Regions from separate parts of the Homo sapiens genome. Here region 1 is linked to region 2. The links come from fine-mapping of genetic effects on gene expression. A gene starts in region 2. The other region holds a variant in brackets. All regions are shown on one strand. Distances are from middle to middle.

The links.
Region 1: its variant is fine-mapped to the expression of RRP36 in whole blood (INTERVAL, PIP 0.97).

Annotation. Positions count from the first base shown.
Region 1 is chr6:43,161,809-43,172,503 of GRCh38, reverse strand. It overlaps SRF (serum response factor), which reads right to left and starts at 1,235. Exons shown (of 7, transcript NM_003131.4): 1 at 335-1,235. The coding sequence starts at 847. RefSeq lists enhancers at 1-16, 1-275, 1,302-2,031 and a silencer at 747-1,326. The variant T/G (reference allele first, on the strand shown) is at 5,766.
Region 2 is chr6:43,016,417-43,027,111 of GRCh38, reverse strand. RRP36 (ribosomal RNA processing 36) reads right to left here and starts at 5,489. Exons shown (of 7, transcript NM_033112.4): 1 at 5,328-5,489; 2 at 1,980-2,127; 3 at 1,783-1,849; 4 at 971-1,075. The coding sequence starts at 5,457. KLHDC3 (kelch domain containing 3) reads right to left here. Exons shown (of 11, transcript NM_057161.4): 2 at 9,766-9,978; 3 at 9,417-9,593; 4 at 9,144-9,259; 5 at 8,896-8,967; 6 at 8,556-8,769; 7 at 8,393-8,479; 8 at 8,141-8,249; 9 at 7,947-8,020; 10 at 7,746-7,824; 11 at 5,818-6,445. The coding sequence starts at 9,919. The coding sequence ends at 6,379. It also overlaps a transcript of MEA1 not described here. RefSeq lists enhancers at 4,474-5,205, 5,588-5,637, 5,698-5,807, 5,206-5,937 and silencers at 5,288-5,357, 5,368-5,417, 5,428-5,497.

The DNA.
Region 1 (10,695 bases), 150 kb before region 2:
CTCATTATCCACCTCCCCGGCAGCCTCGTAGCCTCCCATCACCGCTCCTCACCCCTTCACTCAGCAAGGGCCCTCTTCCTCTCTGGCGCCGGTCACTCCCACCTCTGCGCCTTTCCCCACGGTTGCGAGCGTTCGCGGGATCTCCCCTCTCCCCACATTTCCCCGGCGGCCCCTCCCCTTCGGCCCTCCCCGGGCAGGAGCCATCCCCTCCCACACACCTCCTGCGGACTCGCAGCCTCTCACCTCCGCCTCGGCTCTGCGGTCCTCCCGGGCTCCCTTTGCACATCCCCACCCCAACCGGGCCCCGGGGCCGGCCAGCCCCCCGGCTTGGTACCTTCTTCATGATGCCCGTCTTCCTCTTGCTGAAGGTCGTGTAGCGCCGCAGCTTGTTGTCGATGAACTCCATCTTGATCTTCACGCGGCCCCGGGTCTTCTTACCCGGCTTGGCCCCGCTCACCGCGCCGCTCACCGGCCCGTAGCCCCCGGTGGCCGCTGCCGACGCCTCGGGCCCACCGACCACCATACCGATCTCCATCTCGCTCAGGCTCCGCTTCAGGCCGCGCCGCTCGGCGCCCAGCTCCTCCTCCTCGCCCGACTCCGAGTCGCCCTCGCTGCCGCTGTAGAGGGCCCCCGCGGTGGGCGCCGGGGTGGTTGCCGCCGCTGCCGCAGCCTCCCGCTCCAGGCGGCCGGGCCCGAGCCCCGCGCCATTCCCGGGGACCCGGCCCCCGTTAGCCCCGCGTGTCCCGCCGCCGCCGCCCGGCCGCCCCGTCGGGGTCCGGTTCAGGCTGCCCCCCAGGGCCGAGCCCCGGCCCAGAGCCGCCGCGGCCCCAGCTTGGGTCGGTAACATGGCGCTCGATGCAGGAGGGCGGACGGGCAGTCAGCGAGGAATCGGAGCCGCCGCAGCCGCCGCCATCGGCTTCCCGGCTCAACCCGGCACTCCCGCTGCTGCTAGTGCCGCTATCGCTGCCGCGGCCGCCGCTGCGAACCCGGGGCCCCTGCACGCCCGGGCCGACCTGGGCCCTCACTTTCCTGCCCCTGTGGCCCGGGTTGCCCCAGGCCGCGCGCAGCGCCCCCTGTCCGTCTGCTAGGGCGGCGCGCCGGGCGGCCGTCAGCGTCCCCCGGGGGGCAGGGGCTGCTGGCCGCGGCCGAGACGGCGGGTGGAGGGGGCCGGGACCACGCGCTGGCGGCGGAGGGATCCCCCGACCCTTCCCCCCATATAAAGAGATACAATGTTTCCTTTTATGGCGAGGCCGCTCCTTATATGGTGAGCCCCAGCGCCCCCGCCCCATTGGTCCGTGGTTCCGGCACCTCCGCTCCCCATTGGCCCACAAGAGGGCGCTTATTTGCATAGACATACCGAACTCGTTGCTGTCATCTCGCGTCAGACCGCGACTCTGAGAGGGGTGGAGCCGACGCCTCTTAAAGGAACCGGAGAGCAGGCACGATTCCGCCTCCCTGAACCCGAGAATGATAGAACGGTTTGGGAGGCACCCGCGGAGAAGGAGGCTGGGACTGGAGCGCAGTCTTGCGGAAGAGAGGGAGCAGCACTAGTAAATGGGCACCGGGACCGCTGGAGGCAAACACTGGGGAAACCCCTGGGTGGATTGTGGGGTTTGCAGTAAATAAAAAAATACAGCCCAAATTCCAAGGGAGGAGTGCAGGGATTGATTGGAGCATTTCCTCACGCCTTCCTAAGGGAGGCACAGTTATTGGCTGAGCGGAGAGAGCTTGGGTCCCCGCCCGGTGTCCAGACTCGTCGCGCCCCAGCCTCTCAGCTCTAACTTTTCCCCTACCCCCAACTTCCCTTCCCTTTCCCTCGCTTTTGTAGGCGACGAAACTTTCCCACCGGGCTGGCTCGAGGATCTTCATTCATCATCCTCTGCACTGGGGGGTCTTTGGCAGACATACATCTGGAAAAGGCTGGTGGAGGGGAGGGCGAGAGAGAGAGATCGGCCTCCCAGTCCTGAGGCGGGCAGGGAGGAGAGACGGAGATCAGGGAGGAGAGATGGAGATCAGTGAAGACTTCCAGCTGCAGGCTGGACTTGGGGAGGAGGACGTCCCGAGGATAAAGCCCACCCTACAGCCAGTGCAAAGACTTGGGAAAGTGTGGCCCGACAGAAAGTTTAAGCCCAAGCAAGCACGCTCGCGCACACACACGCACATACACACACTTCTCTGGAAAGCCCGTTGGAGAAAAAAAAAAAAGTTTCACACAGGGTATCGCTCTGTCGCCCAACCTGGAGTGCAGTGGCGGGATCTGAGCTCATTGCAACCTCTGCCTCCCGGGTTCAAGCGATTCTCCCACCTCCGCCTCTCACGTAGCTGGAACTACAGGTGCGCGCCACCACTCTGGCCTAATTTTTGTATTTTTTGTAGAGATGGGGTTTTGCCATGTTGCCCAGACTGGTTTCGAACTCCTGGCCTCAAGCGATCCTTCCCCCTCGGCTTCCCAAAGTGCTGGGATTATAGGCATGAACCACCGTGCCCAGCAGAAAAAAAAAAAAAAAAAAAAAAAAACTTAAAAGATTAGAACTGGGGTGCTGCAAAGTGAGGTTCAAGCTCTGGGTCTGGGTCTTTTCTCCAAAGCAGTGAAAATAGCTTGGACTTTGCTGTTACAGAATTATTTAAATCTGGAATCTGCCTCTTGGTAAGCCCTGTGCCTGGAAACAAGTGACAAGTGATCTGATCTCTCCAGACGCAATATTCATCAATGCTGCTATCCATTCCCTGAGTTTTTTTTTTTTTTTTTTTTGAGACAGAGTCTCGCTCTGTCGCCCAGGCTGGAGTGCACTGGCACGATCTCGACTCACTGCAACCTCTGCCTCCCCAGTTCAAGCGATTCTCCTGCTGCCTCAGCTTCCCAAATAGCTGGGATTACAGGTGCCCACCACCACACCTGGCTAGTTATTTTGTGTTTTTAGTAGAGATGGGGTTTCGCCATGTTGTCCAGGCTGGTCTCGAACTGCTGACCTCAAGTGATCCTCCCACCTCGGTCTCCCAAGGTGCTGGGATTACAGGCATGAGCCACCATGCCGGGCCTATTCCATGAAATTCTTAATGCAGATTTAATGACATAAAGACTAAAGGGCAGAGTAATTGGTCAGTGGTTAGGCAATAGGAGTTACCTGGAGTAAGTCACCTCATCCTAGGGATAAAGCATCTTGGCATGTTTAAGGGGATGGGAGGCAGTGATTATTCCTGCCCGAAAAATTATGGAGATTAAATAAAGCAGTTGATTGTAACCTAGTCATTACTGGTAGTGGTAGTGATATCAATTCAGTATACTACAATCAACATTTAAAAGAATAAATTAATGGGTATCACAAAAAGCAAGGGCAAATATTGTTGCATAAAATGTTTGTTTGCATTATATATAGGTTGAACCCTACAAAATTGCCATTTTATAGGTCAAGAAGGTGGGATATTGTCAATTTCTCATAATTCAGTGTATGTGTGTAATGGATGACAATATTAACTGCATTTCTTACTGTGAGTCACAATCCAAAAGCTTGAAAAATACTGAAATAAAATATGTGCAAGTGATCAGTAAAATATAGTGTGTATTTTGTGTGTATAGTGAATAAAATATAGTGTGTATTTTTTGTCATATAGAGATAAGGTCTCCCTATGTTGCCCAGGCTGGTCTCAAACTTCTGGGCTCAAGCGATTCTCTCACCTCGGCCTCCCAAAGTGCTGGGATTAAAGGCCTGAGCCACTGCACCCAGCCCCCAATAGTTTTAAAGAGGTCTCCCCTCCCTCCACTAATTTACTCTTTACAACAGGTACTTAAACATATGGAACGTGTTAGCCCAAGAGGAAGAACAGGTCAAACAGATAAATAGGTTCCAGAAGGGTTTTAGGGACCACAAATGATGCCTGGGGTCATGTTTTGTCTGAGCACCATAATATTACAGCCAAAGCTCTGGGATTTCATTCCCACCTGCCCTCTAAAGACCCTTTCATTTGCGCCCCCTAGTTTAGACACATGCAGGGGTGACATCCCTCAGCAGGGACAACTGCTCTCTGTCACATCTATAGGGGAGGGTGTCTGGGAAGAACGCAGTCCTTAGCTTCCCTTCAAATAGGCTGCCCTCTCTTCAACTTCTCCCAACTCCTGGGTCATTGCACACCAGTGTTAGTGTCACAGCTTCTCTGTCTGCTTGGGATGGCCCATCTTCATGTCCTTTGTCACCACAGGGAGTCAGGAGGAGACCTCTACCCACACTATTGGATTACTGCAGGTTCCAGAGCCAAAAGTATTGCTAGGGATAAAGTCAAAATCAAAAACTGTCTCATAGAGGTGTTTTATTTGGACCTTATAACATTTAAAAATCATAAGAGTTTACATAAAAATCTGAATGTCTGGCCGGGCGTGGTGGCTCATGTCTGTAATCCCAGCACTTTGGGAAGCTAAGGTGGATGGATCACTTGAGGTCAGGAGTTCAAGACCAGCCTGGCCAACATGGTGAAACGCCATCTCTACTAAAAAAATAAAAAAGTAGCCGGGCATAGTGGCACACATCTGTAATCCCAGCTACACGAGAGGCTGAGGCAGGAGAATCACTTGAACCTGGGAGGCAGAGGTTGCAGTGAGCCTAAATGGGGCCACTGTACTCCGGCCTGAGCTACGGAGTGAGACTCCTTTTCAAAAAAAAAAAAAAATCTGAATATCTGACCTCTCTCAAAAAAATCAGAATTTTTGGTAACACTGGGCCTAGGTACCCACAAAAGCATTATAACCTGGAGCTGATGGTGGCCATAGAAGAGGCTCTCCACTTTACCATAGACTCCACGCAGCCTACTGAGCCTAGGTAAGCTCCTGCCTGGCTGCTCTGAAATGTGAAGTTGAAATGTTCCTCCGAAAAGGCCTGATCAGAGTAGCACCTTGCAACAGATGGGAGCTCATGTCCACCCCAGACCATGAAGGGCCTCTGTAAGTGCATGGGAATTTCAGCCAGATCCCTCACACCACACAGATTCCACCCTGACCTTTCTTTCTTTCTTCTGATTTTTATCACCTAACTAATAACAAACAAAAATTAAGGATTGCTTTTAAAAATTACTGTCATGGCTGGGTGCAGTGATTCACACCTAAAATCCCAGCACTTTTTGAGGTCAAGGTGGGAGGATAATTTGAGTCCGGGAGTTTTGACACCAGCCTGGACAACACAATGAGACCCCATCTCTTAAAAAAAAAAAACACAGGCAGGCAAGGTGGGTCATGCCTGTAATCCTAGCACTTTGGGAGGCCTAGGAGGGTGGATCACCTGAGGTCAGGAGTTCAAGACCAGCCTGGCCAACATGGCAAAAATCCCACCTCTCCTAAAAATACAAAAATTAGCCGGGCCTGGTGGTGTATGCCTATAATCCCAGCTACTCAGGAGGCTGAGGCAGGAGAATCACTTGAATCTGGAGGGGAGAGATTGCAGTGAGCCAAGATCGTGCCACTTCATTCCAGCCTGGGTGAAAGAGTGAAACTTCATCTCAAAAAAAAAAAAAAATGCTGGGGCACAGTGGCACGCATCTGTAGTCGTAGTCCCAGCTACTAGGGAGGCTGAGGTGGGAAGATTGCTTGAGCCCAGGCTGCAGTGAGCCATGATGGCACCACTGCACTCAATCTAGGTAAGAGGAAAACCCTGTCTCAAAAAAGAAAAAAAAATTACTGTCAAAATACCCTAAATCTGTTTTCATTTGGAATTAACCTTTACTCAGGGATTCATAATTTTGCACAGAGGCAAAGAGGGTATCAATTGTGATGGCAGCAT[T/G]AGCAGTAATGGAAAAGAATTTATGAGTCATTGTGCCCAGGAAAAGTCTGGAAAGCCACACTCCAAACACTAATAGTGCTTACCTATGGAGAGTGAGGTTTGGGATGAGAGGGGTGTGTTTTTTTGCTTTATATAAGTTTGTACCATGTGACTTCTTTGACAATCAATATGACTTTTATATTTTTCTTTTAAAATTAAGCAAAAATAGGCCGGGTGCGGTGGCTCATGCCTGTAATCCCAGCACTTTGGGAGGTTGAGGCGGATGGATCGCTTAAGGTCAGGAGTTTGAGACCACACTGGCCAATATGGTGAAACCCTGTCTCTACTGAAAATACAAAAAAAATTAGCTGGGTGTGGTGGCGGGCACCTATAATCCCAGCTTCTGGGGAGTCTGAGGCAGGAGAATCGCTTGAACTCAGGAGGTGGAGGTTGCAGTGAGCCGAAATCAAGGCATTGCACTACAGCCTGGGGGACAGAGCGAGACACTCTTTCAAAATAATAATAATAATAATAATAATAATAAAATTAAGCAAAAATAGGCTGGGTGTGGTGGCTCATGCCTGTGAGCACTTTGGGAGGCTGAGGCAAGTGGATCGCTTGAGCTCAGGAATTTGAGACCAGCCTGGGTAACATGGCAAAACCCTATCTCTACGAAAAATACAAAAATTAGCTGGGTTTGGTGGTACGCACCTGTAGTCCCAGCTACTCGGAAGCTGAGGTGGGAGGATCCCTTGAGCCTGGGAGGTTGAGGTTGGAATGAGCCATGATCTACCACTATACTCCAGCCTAGGTGACAGAGTGAGACCCTATCTCCAGAAAAAAAAAAGAAAGAAAGAAAGAAAGAAAGTAGAGAAAGGAAGGGCAATGACAGTCTCAGGAGCATAGCCATGGCAGGAGAAAAAGAAGCCTTAGGCGGGGCGCGGTGGCTAACTCCTGTGATCCCAGCACTTTGGGAGGCTGAGGCGGGCGGATCATGAGGTCAGGAGATCGAGACCACCCTGGTTAACACCATGAAACCCCGTCTCTACTAAAAGTATAAAAAATTAGCTGGGCATGGTGGCGGGTGCCTATAGTCCCAGCTACTCGGGAGGCTGAGGCAGGAGAATGGCGTGAACCTGGGAGGCGGAGCTTGCAGTGAGCCGAGATCGTGCCACTGCACTCCAGCCTGGGCAACAGGGCAAGACTCTGTCTCAAAAAAAAAAAAAAAAAAAAAAAGCCTTAGCCAGGGCTGGAGAAGGACTGGCCAGAGAAACTGTTGACAGTGTAAAAAAGTGAGGGAGGGCGGGGGGGCGCGGTGGCTCACGCCTGTAATCCCAGCACTTTGGGAGGCCAAGGCGGGTGGATCATGAGGTCAGGAGATCGAGACCATCCTGGCTAACATGGTGAAATCCCGTCTCTGCTAAAAATACGAAAAATTAGCCGGGCGTGGTGGCAGGTGCCTGTAGTCCCAGCCACTTGGGAGGCTGAGGCAGGAGAATGGCGTGAACCCGGAGGCGGAGCTTGCAGTGAGCTGAGATCACACCACTGCACTCCAGCCTAAGTGACAGAGCAAGATAGTCTCAAAAAAAAAAAAAAAAGGTGGGGACGGAGGAGAGTCTCTGAAGAGGAAGGTATGGCCAACAATGTTAGCCACTATGGAGTGCTCAAGGAAGAACAAGAGTTAGAAGAGGATTTAGTGATTAATAACTTTCCAGAGCAGTGCCTTTCAAATATTTCTGGGTGCAACCCACAGTCAGAAATCATTTTTACATTGCAACCTGTGGTCAGTTAGATTATTGCTCCCAACTCTTCACACCCTCTGTTGGAATTATATACATCAACATCCTTGCCGTGTGACTTTGCAGTATGTCCTACTGGTGCTGATGTTGGGTTTTACTGTGTGACTTGCTTTGGCCAATAAAATGTTAATAGACGTGTGTGTGTGTGCGTGAGTGTGTGTGTGTGTAAGAGATGGGGTCTATTTTGCCCAGGTTGGAGTGAGTGTAGTGGCTATTCACAGGAACAATCATTGCACACTACAGCCTCAAACTCATGGGCTTAAAGCGAACCTCCTGCCTCAGCCTCCCAAGTAGCTGGGACTACAGGCACATGCCATGGTGCCAGCTCAGACTTGTGGTTTGAAATGTGCTTGCACAGTTTGGCTTGACCTCTTGCACTCTGCCACTGCATAAGAACATGCTCTGGGTGCCAGCAGACTAGACCTAAGCCAGACCTCCAGCCTGGCACCAAGCACAGCCAAAATCAGCCAACCCTCACCAACCTGCAGATACATGAGTCAGAAAAAAATCTTGTCAGCTAGTAAGATTTGGGGATTACTATGCAGTATCACCACCCAACAGTTAACTAACACACTATCCAATATATATATATATATGCAGCAAATATAACAAAATTTTGTAAAACAACAATTACCCTTAAAGGATACAACGTACTCTGATAGTGCCTATTATGTTTCTTTTTTTCCCTTTTTTTCTTTTTTAATGCTGGTTGCAAACCAGAGTTTGAAAAACACTGCTCTAGAAAAATTTTCCCTTCAACACATCTGAAGGATGTAATGCATGGTGTATACCAGTGACTATGGCTCACTTACTAGCTGTGTAACCATGGGCAAACTACCTGACTTCCCTTGAGACTCAGTTTCCTAATCTGTGAAATGGAAATAATCTCATCTGGCTAACAGAGTAGTTGCAGAGATTAAATGAGATAATGCACATTAAGTGACTAGTGCAGATAAAGTCTTCAAAAAACATTAGCTTTTCTTTTTTTTTTTTTTTTTTTTTTTGAGACAGGGTCTTGCTCTGTCACCCAGCCTGGAGTGCAGTGGTGAGAACCTCCTGGGTTCAAGAGATCCTCCCTCCTCAGCCTCCAGAATAGCTGAGACCATGGGCACACCCCCACTACCCCCAGCTAATTTTTTTTTTTTTTTTTGAGACAGAGTCTCGCTCTGTCTCCAGGCTGGAGTACCGTGGCATGATCTCGGCTCATTTTAACTTCTGCCTCCCAGGTTCAAGCGATTCTCCTGCCTCAGCCTCCTGAGTAGCTGGGACTACAGGCACGTGCCTCCATGCCCAGCTAAATTTTGTATTTTTTTTAGTAGAGACCATGTTGACCAGGATGGTCTCTCTTTTTTTTTTTTTTTTTTTTTTTGAGACAGAGTCTCACTCTGTCGCCCAGGCTGGAGTGCAGTGGTGCGATCTCGGCTCACTGCAAGCTCTGCCTCCCAGGTTCACGCCATTCTCCTGCCTCAGCCTCCCGAGTAGCTGGCACTACAGGCACCCACCACCACTCCCGGCTAATTTTTTGTTTTAGTAGAGACAGGGTTTCACCGTGTTAGCCAGGACGGTCTTTATCTTTTGACCTTGTGATCCACCCGCCTTGGCCTCCCAAAGTGCTGGGATTACAGGTGTGAGCCATGGTGCCCGGCCCTACACCCAGCTAAGTTTTAAATTTTTTGTAGAGGTGTAGTCTAGCCATGTTGCCCAGGCATTTCTGTCACCTCAGCCTTTTAAAGTGCTGAGATTATAGGCATGAGCCACTGTTCCTGTGGCCTTTTATTATTATTATTTTTTGAGACAGAGTCTTGCTCTGTTGCCCAGGCTAGAGTGCAGTGGTGCAATCTTGGCTCACTGCAACCTCTGCCTCCCAGGTTCAACCGATTCTGCCGCCTCAGTCTCCCAAGCAGCTGGGACTACAGGTGTGCACCACCACGCCCAGCTAACTTTTGTATTTTTAATAGAGACAGGGTTTCACCATATTGGCCAGGCTGGTCTCAAACTCCTGACCTCGTGGATCCACCCACCTCAGGTCCCAAAGTACTGGGATTACAGGCGTGAACCACCGTGCCCAGCCGGCCTGTTTTTTTTATTTTTTTGAGACAGGGTCTCACTTGATCACCCAGGCTGGAGTGCAGTGTTGTGATCATAGCTCACTGCCACCTCAAACTTCTGGGCTCACATGATCCTCCTGCCTCAGCCTCCTCAGTAGTTAGGACTACAAGTGCATGTCGCCACACCTGGCTAATTTTTAAATTTTTTGTAGAGACAGGGTCTCACTATGTTGGCCAGGCTGGTCTCAAACTCCTGGTCCCAAGTGATCTTCCTGCCTCAGTCTCCCAAAGTATTAGGATTACAGGTGTGAACCACCATGTCCAGCCTGCTGTTATTTTTATTATTCAGAAGTTTGGTGAGGAGTAAAGGAACTAGAGCAGTTTTGGAGTTCAGGACTCGTTTCTTTTGGATGGTGAACCAGGCTGAAGTTACTGGAATGAGGCAGAGGATAGGTGAGGACACAAGATCCAGGCATTAAGCACCGTCTCTCTGCTTGGTTCTACCTACTTCACTTCCCTCCTAGGGTCTTGAAAGGACTCAGAGACCTGAGTCTGTCACTAACTCCTTCTCCAATCCTACTCTAACTTGCTCCCCTTCACGCTTCTACCCTCCCCATCTGAGCACAAGGATTAGGCCCGTCTAGGTGACAGTCAGAGGACAGCACAGGGTTGCACAGACAACAGGTGATCTTGCCTTCTTCATGCCTGCATGCTCACCTGCCCTGCAAACTGGAGAGAAGAACCAATATCCACCGGTTCATCCTGTCCAAGCCCCACCAGACTCCATGAAGGCACATGGCCCTTTCATTTTTCTCTTTTTTTTTTTGTTTTTTTTTAGACAGAGTCTCGCTGTCACCCAGGCTGGAGTGCAGTGGTGTGATCTCGGTTCACTGCAACCTACATCTCCTGGGTTCAAGCGATTCTCCTGCCTCAGCCTCCCAAGTAGCTGGGATTACAGGCGCCTGCCACCATGTCCAGCTAATTTTTATATTTTCAGTAGAGACAGGGGTTTCACCTTTTTGGCCAGGCTGGTCTCGAACTCCTGACCTCAGGTGATCCACTGGCCTCAGCCTCCCAAAGTGCTGGGATTACAGGCATGAGCCA
Region 2 (10,695 bases):
CATTATCCTAAGAAGTTCACACACATACACACACACACATTTTTTTTTGAGATGCAGTCTTGCTCTGTCACAGGCTTGAGTGCAGTGGTGTGATCTTGGCTCACTGCAACCTCCGCCTCCTGGGTTCAAGCAATTCCCCTGCCTCAGCCTCCCAAGTAGCTGGGACTACAGGCACGTGCCACCACGCCCGGCTAATTTTTTTTTTTATTTTAGTAGAGACTAAATTTCACCATGTTGGCCAGGATGATCTTGATCTCCTCCTTTTGTATTTTAGTAGAGACTAATTTCACCATGTTGGCCAGGATGGTCCCAATCTCCTGACCTCGTGATCCACCTGCCTCGGCCTCCCAAAGTGGTGGGATAACAGGCATGAGCCACCGCACCCGGCCAGAAGTTCACATATATTAACTTGATAACACCAAGACAGTAACTGTTTGTTTGGAGACAGTCTTGCCCTGCTGCCCAGGTTGGAGTGCAGTGACACGATCTTGTCTCACTGCAACCTTTGTCTCCAGGGCACCAGCAATTCCCATGCCTCAGCCTCTTGAGTAGCTGGGACTATAGGCATGCAACACCACACTTGGCTAATTTTTCTATTTTTAGTAGAGATGGGGTTTCACCATGTTGGCCAGGCTGGTCTTGGAACTGCTGGCCTCAAATGATGTGCTCACCTCAGTCTCCCCAAGTGCTGGGATTACTTACAGGCGTGAGCCACCACACCCGGCCTCCAAGACAGTAATTATTATTTTATTTTTTTATGATTAGAAAACTAAAGCATAGAGAGATTAAGTAACATGCCAATAATCACACAGCTAGTAAACTGATGAGCCAGGATTTGAATATGAACTGAATTGGAGAGAGTTAAATCTGCCCACCACTATACTTCCCACTCCCCCTGCCCAACTCTCTAACCTGTGCCCTCATTTTCCACCCCACAAAATTCCCCATAAACCAGTCTCAAGCTGTATACCTCTTTCTCTTTCGCTCGGATGTCATTCAAGAATTGGTATGTTTTGTCAAACACCTCAGGATTATATTCCCCTGACAGATCATCAAAGCGAGGGTCCCGGGCTACCTTTGGAGAGAAGAGAGAGAATATAAAACACAACTGTTCAATCTCCTTTCACTGAGAAAAAGTGCTTCCTGTCTCTTCCTCATCTTTCTTTTTTTTTGCTTTTTGAGACACAGTCTCGCTCTGTCGCCCAGGCTGGAGTGCAGTGGTGCAATCTCGGCTCACTGCAAGCTGTGCCTCCCAAGTTCACACCATTCTCCTGCCTCAGCCTCCTGAGTAGCTAGGACTACAGGCACCCGCCACCACGCCCGGCTATTTTTTTTTGTATTTTTAGTAGAGACGGGGTTTCACTGTGTTAGCTAGGATGGTCTCAATCTCCTGACCTCGTGATTCGCCCACCTTGGCCTTCCAAAGTGCTGGGATTACAGACATGAGCCACTGCGCCCGGCCTCTATTTTTTTTTTTTTTTTTTTTTTTGAGACAGAGTCTTACTCTGTCCCACAGGCTGTAGGGCAGTGGCATGATCCTGGCTCACTGCAACCTTCACCTCCCAGGTTCAAGCGATTCTTGTGCCTCAGTTTTCCAAGCAGCTGGGACTACAGGCACACACCACCATGCCCAGCTAATTTTTGTATTTTTAGTAGAGACAGGGTTTCACCATGTTGGCCATGCTGGTCTTGGAACTCCTGATCTCAGGTGATCGCCCACCTCGGGCTCCCAAAGTGCTGGGATTACAGGCGTGAGCCACAGTGCCTGGCCTTCTTCCTTACCTTTTTACTAATGGGAACAACCTGACGTAAAAATGGTACTCGGATCTTGGCTGACATTTCCAGAGGCCTATGGAGAAATTAAAAGCCAAGTCAAGAGGACTCCAGTGTTGGTCAAAGGCTTCCCACCTGTCACCCAAGACAACATACCTATTCAAGGTCCCAGTTATCTTCCAACTTCTAGGGCAAGCCTTGCTTACCTGTGCTTATCTGCAACACATGCATTTTGGATAGGTGGTCTAGAAGCTTGTTTCTTAGGACTATTTCCAGCTACCAATTGTTTGTACGTCTTAGTCCCCACTTGGCTCTGCAATTCCAACAGCTCCTCAAATGACATGTTAGATGTGCCTGTGGAAGTGGGGAGGGACATACAACTCAGCTCAGCATGTCCCACTGCAGAAAAGACATCTTCCCATCCCCATTCCTTAGCTAGCTAATCCTAATACCCCATCAGACCAATCATTATTAGAAGTCCTAGGCAGCAGAGGCTGTGATAGTGTTAAACTCTCCAACTATTTCAGCAACCTGGGGCCTCATCTTGCTAAGGAAGGTGTATATGTAAGGTCAAAGGTGCACCAAACCATAGTCCCTTCTTTTTCTCTTTTACTCATTCTTTTACTCTCTCTTTTACTCATTCACAGGTTTCCCCAGAAGGGCATCTGCCTCCCTTGCTCAGTTACCATTGCCAGTGTCCTGGTCCACATGCTCAGCATCTCTCACCTCAATCAGTGCTCTAGCCTCCTAGTCTCCCAACCACCAGCCTCACTCCTCTCAAAGCTATGCGCCTCAATTCAGCCTGAGAGAGGCATCGAAAATAAAATCAGATCTTATCACTCCCACACATAAACTTCAGATCATGTTACTCCTACAGGCAAAAGTCCCCAATGGCTTCCATCTTGCTCACAGTAAAAGCCATGTACCTTAATAATGGCCTGCAAGCCCCCAAGTGACCTGGCCCCTGTCATATCTCTACTCTACTCATCTCCTTCTCACTCCTCTCAATGTGTCTCCTAGCAGCATATTCCCACCTCAGTTCCTCTGCACATGTTGCCTCTGCTTGGTACACTTCCCCCAGAAACTGTACATAGGTACAGCTCCTCCCTCAGTTCCTTCAAGCCTTTATTCAAAATCACCTTCCCAAAGAGGTCTTCTCTAAGTTATTTAAAATTGCGACCCCTCGTCCAGGTGTGGTGGCTCACGCCTGTAATCCCAGCACTTTGGGAGGCTGAGGCAGATCAATCACCTGAGGTCAGGAGTTTAAGACCAGCCCGGTCAACATGGTGAAACCGTCTCTACAAAAATACAAAAATTAGCTGGGCATGATGGCAGGTGCCTGTAATCCCAGCTACTCGGGAGGCTGAGGCGGGAGAAGAGCTTGAACCTGGGAGGCAGAGGATGCAGTGAGCCGAGATCACGTCACTGCACTCCAGCCTGGGTGACAGAGCGAGACTCCATCTCGGAAAAAAAAAAAAAATGCAACCTCTCCTAAGCTTTATTTTTTCTCCATATCCTCTATCACCTTAAAAAAAATTGAGCTATAATTCATATTCCACAAAATCCAGTTCTCTAGTCTACAATTCAGTGTTTTATTGCCTTTTAATGTAATAATTTACTTGTCTCCCTTAAATTTTACTTATTTATTTTGAGCTGGACTCACTCTGTCACGAGGCTGGAGTGCAGTGGCGCGATCTCGGCTCACTGCAACCTCCGCCTCCCAGGTTCAAGCGATTCTCCTGCCTCAGCCTCCTCAGTAGCTGGGACTAAGGCACGCACCACCAAGTCCAGCTGATTATTGTATTTTTAATAAGGACGAGTTTCACCATGTTGGCCCAGATGGTCTTGATCTCCTGACCTTGTGATCCGCCCACCTCGGCCTCCCAAAGTGCTGGGATTACAGGCATGAGCCACACCTGGACTTAAATTTTATTTATTTTGAAAAAAGGTCTTGCTCTGTTGCCCAGGCTGGAGTGCAGTGGCCTAATCACTGCTCACTGCAGCCTCGACCTCCTGGGCTCAAACTATCCTCATGCCTCAGCCTCCTCAGTGGCTGGGAATACAGACGTGGGCCACCACCCTGGCTAAATTTTTTTATTTTTAGTAGAAAAGCGGGTCTCATTATGTTTACCAGGCTGGTCTTGAACTCCTGGGCTCAAGCGATCCTCCTGCTTCAGTCTCCCCTGGTGCTGGGATTACAGGTGTGATCCACCACACCCGGCCAGGATAGGAGTGTTTGACTACTTTATTCACAACTATCTCCAGCAGCTAGAACTGTGCCTTAACAAAAAGCCTGCAGCATTTGCTGGGCACAGTAATCCTGTAATCCTTGGGAGGCTGAGGCGGGTGGATCACTTGAGCCCAGGAACTGGAGACCAGCCCTGGCACCTGGTAACATGATGAGACCTGGCTGGGCGAGGTGGCTCACGCCTGTAATCCCAGCACTTTGGGAGGCCGAGGCGGGCGGATCACGAGGTCAGGAGATAGAGACCATCCTGGCTAACACGGTGAAACCCCATCTCTACTAAAAATACAAAAAATTAGCCGGGCGTGGTGGCGGGCGCCTGTAGTCCCACTACTCGGGAGGCTGAGGCAGGAGAATGGCGTAAACACGGGAGGCGGAGCTTGCAGTGAGCTGAGATCGCGCTACTGCACTCCAGCATGGGCAACAGAGCGAGACGCCGTCAAAAAAAAAAAAAAAAAAAAGGTGAGACCTTGTTTCTACATTAAATAAATAAATAAATAAATAAACAAACCCATCCGTGCAGGCGTGGTGACGCGCCTGCAGTCCCAGCTACTCGAAAGGCTGAGGTAGGAGGATCTCTTGGGCCCGGGAGTTCGAGGCCGCAGTGAGCCGTCATGGTGCAACTACACTCCAGCCTGGGCTACAGGGCGAGACTTTGTCTCAAAAAAATAAAAAATATAAAAAATTTAAAAAACAGGCTGGGCGCAGTGGCTCACGCCTGGAATCCCAGCACTTTGGGAGGCTGAGGCGGGCGGATCACGAGGTCAGGAGATCGAGACCATCCTGGCTAACAAGGTGAGACCCCGTCTCTACTAAAAATACAAAAAATTAGCCGGGCGTGGTGGCGGGCGCCTGTAGTCCCAGCTGCTCTGGAGGCTGAGGCAGCAGAATGGCGTGAACCCGGGAGGCGGAGCTTGCCGACATCGCGCCACTGCACTCCAGCCTTGGCGACAGAGAGAGACTCCGTCTCAAAAAAAAAAAATTAAAAAAACAAAGTCTACGGAATCTGCTGAATTCTGATCTACTAAGCCTTCAGCAGCCATGCATGCCTTTTCCTGCCTCCATGCTATTGCACATACGTTCCCCATCGCCGAAAACCCTCATCCTGCCGTGAAGAAACTTCTCAGGATGTCCTAATCCCGGAAGCATCTACTCTCACCCCCCACTTTCCACTGCACTGGGGGCACCCCTAGTGTAGCGTCTGCCTCTTAGAGAACTTGGCAGTCTTACCGGCACCGTCTCTGCAGGCTCAGGGCCCCGCCTGGGAATCTCCTTCCCCTCCCCAGCCCGCCCTGCCCCATGCCCTCACCCCTCAATAGGTCGCGGGCCACGGCCGCGGGCTCCAGGCCCCCGCCGTCCTCCTCGCGGTCCCGGGCCCCGCGGGGACGTCGGGCCCCGGCCCCGGCCCCGGCCCCGGCGCGGTAGTTAGCTCCCGGCATCAGCTGGCAGTAGCGCTCGGAAGACGAATGGCGCCGCTTCCGCTCACGGCAGCCCCTGCCCCGCCTCTTCCGGCGTTCCCGGTCTCAACGTGGTGACGAATGGGCAGAAAACTGCGCGGTCGAGGGCCAGGGAGCCGGGCCCAAAGGATAACCCGCTCTGGAGACATTGTCGCAACCTTCTGCCCGAGTCGCAGGGTGCTGGGTTCCACGCCCGAGAAGCTTGGACCAGGCCTTGGTGGCATTTGGTTTCCTAATACCCTTGGCTGAGAAGCCAGAACCTCAGGGTGCTTGTCCTCGGCACCCTGCCCCCACTGCAAACTCCAGCCTTCTCCACCATATTCCACAAAAACACACAACACGTTTGGAGATTTTAATTAATTTTTATAAAATCTGAGCTGGCTGAACTTCAGAGTACAGCGACAGCTCAAGGAAGGGTGGGATTTATCTGCTGGTCCCCACCTCCCCAAGACGGGGAGAAGGAGGTCTCATGCCAACAGCTGCAACTCCTTTCAGCTCCCAGTCAAGGCTCAAGGCTCAAGCAGAGGGGAGGGGATAGGCAAAGGGGGAGGGGGAAGCTCCTGAGGCTCAGACACTGCTTGCTTCTCCCTTCTCCCCATTCCCTTCCCTTCCCAGCAGAACCTGGCTGGCCCTGGGCAGAGCTGAGGCCCAGGAGCAGCTGAAAGGAGGTGGATGGGGACAGAGCACCAAGGGGAAGGGGCCCTCGGCCCAAGGGGGGAGGAACCTAGCCCCCACCCCGCTACAGCTCCCCACTGAATTCACAGCACAGAGAACACCTCTCGCCCAACAACTCCACATGGAGGTATACCAAGTCCAGGGGTCAAAGGAGCAGGTGGGTGACAGATGGGCAGGGGCAGTGAAGATGACAGCAGGCTCAGGAGGGGAGGTGGCAGAAACTTCCTCCTACCCATGGGAGGAGACGATGGGGCGACTGATATTGCTGTTGGTGGTCATGGCATTCAGCTCCCACCTGGAAGGCCAACAATAAGAGACAGAAAGAAGAGGGGGCCCTCAGCCCAAGCTAAGGGATGTTTGAACCAAGCTAAAAACACACCAGTCTCTCCAACTTCCTAAAGGTCAACCACCCACAGCCACCTCTTACTTAAGAGACCTACTAGGTTGAACAATCAGAACCCACCCACCACCAAATCCAACACCACCCACTCCTCTACCTCCAAGCTCATATGGATTTCCGGTTTATGTTTATGTATGTATGTATATTGCAGTGTCCAGGCACCTGAGATCTGTGTATACATGTCAGTCAACATCCCAACCTGCCTTTCCTGCTTTGCTTAGAGCCAACCAGGCAGCCCCTCCACCTTACCCTCACCAGGAATGCCTCACCCCACCAGGAATACCCATTTTTGCTCTTAACTCCCATCCTTTTAAGGCTCTGACTCAGCACTCCTATCCTTCCTGAGGCCTTCCCCACCCACCCAACCATATTAATTTTTTTTTTGAGTCTTGTTCTGTCACCTAGGCTGGAGTACAGTGGTGCAGTGGCACAATCTTGACTCACTGAAACCCCCGCCTCCCGGGTTCAAGCAATTCTCTTGCCTCAACCTCCCAAGTAGCTGGGACTACTGGTGGCTGCCACTATGCCCAGCTAATTTTTGTATTTTTAGTATAGACAGGGCTTCACCATGTGGCCAGGATGGTCTCGAACTCCTGACCTCAACTGATTTGCCCACCTCAACCTCCCGAAGTGATGGGATTACAGGTATGAGCCACCATGCCCAGCCAGCAAGAGTTAAACTGAACTGATACAAAGAGACGAAGTATCTCAGAATGACCCAGACAGGAAAAATTATATACAAAGTAACATCTGGTGGTTAATTTGAACCTGAAAAATTATACATAAAGTAACATCTGGTGGTTAATTGGAACCTAAGAACGAAATTCAAAGGGAAGCAGCCAGATCTTCTGGAACCAATGTGATCCAGAGGCTCCTAAACTTGTCTTTACTTTGCAGCTAGGTTCTAAGATTTAATCAGTTGTTCTCAGCATGGTCACAAAAATAACTGTATAAGCTTAGGTCTCAGAAAGTGATGCTGCCGAGCTGTATTTTTTTTTCATATAATTTATTCTGCTGACAGTTTTATATGATGGCTGTCAATTCACCTCCTTCCATCTCATTTCCCACAAGTACACTACATCTCCAGCAGAACAAAAATGTCTGTCTCCTCCATACTGAAACCAAGCTAATCAGGTCACACCTGTGCTGCTCACTCACCCTCACTCAATCCCTCCCTTCCAACCACTCGCTGTACCTGATATCATGAGGCAAACAGGACTGGTCTAGGTTATACTGAATCACGGCCAGTTTGCACAGAGTCTTCAGACTAGGGCCTTTAAGGGAGAAGTTGTGGAAAGGAGATGGTCAAAGGTGAGGAAAGGATCCAGTCCTGGATATCACCACCCAAAGACAGGGACCTTGATGGCAGGAGCAATTCAGGAATAACTATACTTACTAAAGTCCAAAATGTGTAAGTCAGAATGATCTATAAGGTCAAATTCATCTCCCAGGCCTTCCTCAGGAGATGGACTGTCGGGATCAAAAGAGAGATGAAAGTAGGACAAAAACTACCCACGAAACCCCCTTTTCAAATACCTCCCACTCTCCCATTAGTGACTTCCCTGAGCCCCTTCCCTCTCTCCTTCTAACCTGGTACCCCCAAAGAGGACAATCTTGTCACCAACAATACAGCAGCACTGGCGCCGGCGGGGACATGGCCCCTTCCCCTTCGGTTCAATCTTTTTCCAGGTAAAGGACACTGAAGAGAAATTTATATGGAAGTTCAATACCTGCCTAGTCCAGGTATCTTCCCCACCCCCATCCCTCACCGCCTCAGGATTATTTTCTTTTCCTCCCACCTCAATTGCTCCTTGTTCCTGCCCTAAATGCAGTGCTCTTTACCAGGATTAAACTTCCAGAGGTCATGGAAGTGCCGGTTCAGCCTTGCATTATAACCACCAAAGATGTACAGCTCCCCATTGTAGCCAACTGGAAGGAGAGAGGAAGTGTCAGGAGTGTGAAGAGGGCAGGAAGGGAACTCCACAGGGAAGTAACAAACACTCACAGGCCGAGTGGCTCCGGCGCCCCTCAGGCAGCACTGGAGTCGGGGGACAGTCCAGCCAAGCCTCAGTTCTGGTGTCAAAGACTCGAATGCGGTTGCAGTAAATCTCATTGTTGGAATGGAATGGCCCAAAGCGGTCGGCACGGCCCCCAAAGACATACATGTGACTTCCCAGCATTGTGGCTGAGTGGAAGTCCCTCCAGCGTGCAGGGCTGCCCTGGGCAGAGGCAGAGAGATGGTGGAGGGGTCAGCACAAAGACTGGAAGAGGATCTCCTCTGACTGAGCTTCCTATCATTGCTTCAACAGAGGGTGGGGATTTGGGAAAAAAAAGAAAGAGCAGACCTTTGTACAGATAAGAGTCCATGTCATGGTGCTGGTATCTAGCTTGTGAATGTCATTGGAAAAACAGTCCGCCTGAGTAGGAAGAGAAAAGGAGGAAGAAAAGAGGGAGCCAATGGTCACTCTCTGACCCTCCATCCCTCCCCTCAAAACCTGCAAACAAGCCAAAGCCTCCCATTTCACCATCCTAAATTGCCCTTCCCCTCTTTCTCAGTCCCACCCTAAACCTCTTATTTTATTCCCAGACCTACCTGCTGCTCGTAGCCCCCAAAAATGTACATGATCTTGCCTAGGACACAGGCTGAATGTCCATCCCGGGCCCCAGGAACTGTCCCTGACACTCGGGGTGTGAACCACTTGTGCGTATCTGAAGGAGATGAGAAAATGGCTCAACTAAGCACCCTCTATGACAGTCCCTCCTCAGCTCTGGGGTACTCTACTCCCCAAGACCCCCAACCCAAACCTTTCTTGGGCAACTGAGGCAACATCTGGAAGGACATAGCCTCTCTGAGATCCATACTCACTGACGTCAAAGGCATAGAGCACATTGCAGGCCCCTTCGGTGTCATTCCGCCCGCCCCAAAGGAGGACTGTGTCGTCGATGAGGACGGTTGAGTGTCCATAGCGCATGTAGGGTACCACAGGAGCTTGCCCACGGATGGCAGACTTCACCGGGGGCAGCTTTGTCCAACGCAAGGACACTGTGGGCACAGCTCTGCTCAGCCCTGGGAACCTCCCTCCAGGCTGTCCACTTTTCCCAAACCAGATGTTTGTCCCCAATCCCCTTGGTCCCAGAGACCACAGCCAAACCTCATCAGCAGCCCGTTCCCACCCTGATGTGGGGACCCAGGGACAGCCCCAGCATTGGCTTACCTGCATTGAAAATGTGCACATCTATCTGACGCAGTGTCTCATAGTCTTCACCAGAGCAGTAACCCCCGAAGGAGTATACCCGATGCCCGACAGCCACTGCAGCATGGTTCACCCTGCGGGGCCCGCCCTCCAGGTGCACTGTCCACCGTAACATCCCCTGGGCCACTGGTTACAGCAACATGCCCCCCCGGCACGGCCTGCTGCCTCTGCTATCTGCACACAAATTGGGGCCACGGGATCCTCAGGCGAGGCTTCTGCCCAGCTCACTGTGACTCTGCCCAGAACCAGCCTTTGCCTCCAAGTGTCACCCTGGGGGCCCTCCCACACTACCCCTCCACAGGGGCACTAGTCTCAGCTCAGGTGGCTGGCCCTGCCCCAAGGGAGCTGCCGAGGTCAGGGAGCAGCCTGGGCCCAGTGTTCTCCAACAGTGAAGGGTGGGGCCACCCCCACCTGATTGCCAGCTCAGAATCTGCATATCATGGTCACAACCTACTCGTGGAGGCTCCACTCTGTCCCTGGCTTGGCACAAACTTGAAGCCCCCTTCCCAAACGGTATATTCTCTTGTCTCTGCTCTGCTTACTGCCACCTCTCTAAGAATCTGTGTTCTTTGAGGTGGGGAAAGGGATCTCAAAATACTCACAGCTATTAATAGCCCAGCCAGCCTCAAACAGTCCATTGAAAGCTGGCATGAGTGCCTCAAAGCAGAAAAGCTTTCAGGCTTTTAGAGTGGAACAATCCCCCTACCCAAGATAGGGCGGGACTGATCCAGGACAGGGACCTCCATGTTACCGCGGTTGGTTAGCCCCTCACAGGGAGCTCCTGTCAAGCTGAGTTGTTGTCATTGGGGTCACCCAGGGCCCCCCACAGGCACAAGGAGTTCCTTTGACAGCTGTGCCTGGTATGCTGCCAGGACTTAAGCCAGAAAGGTA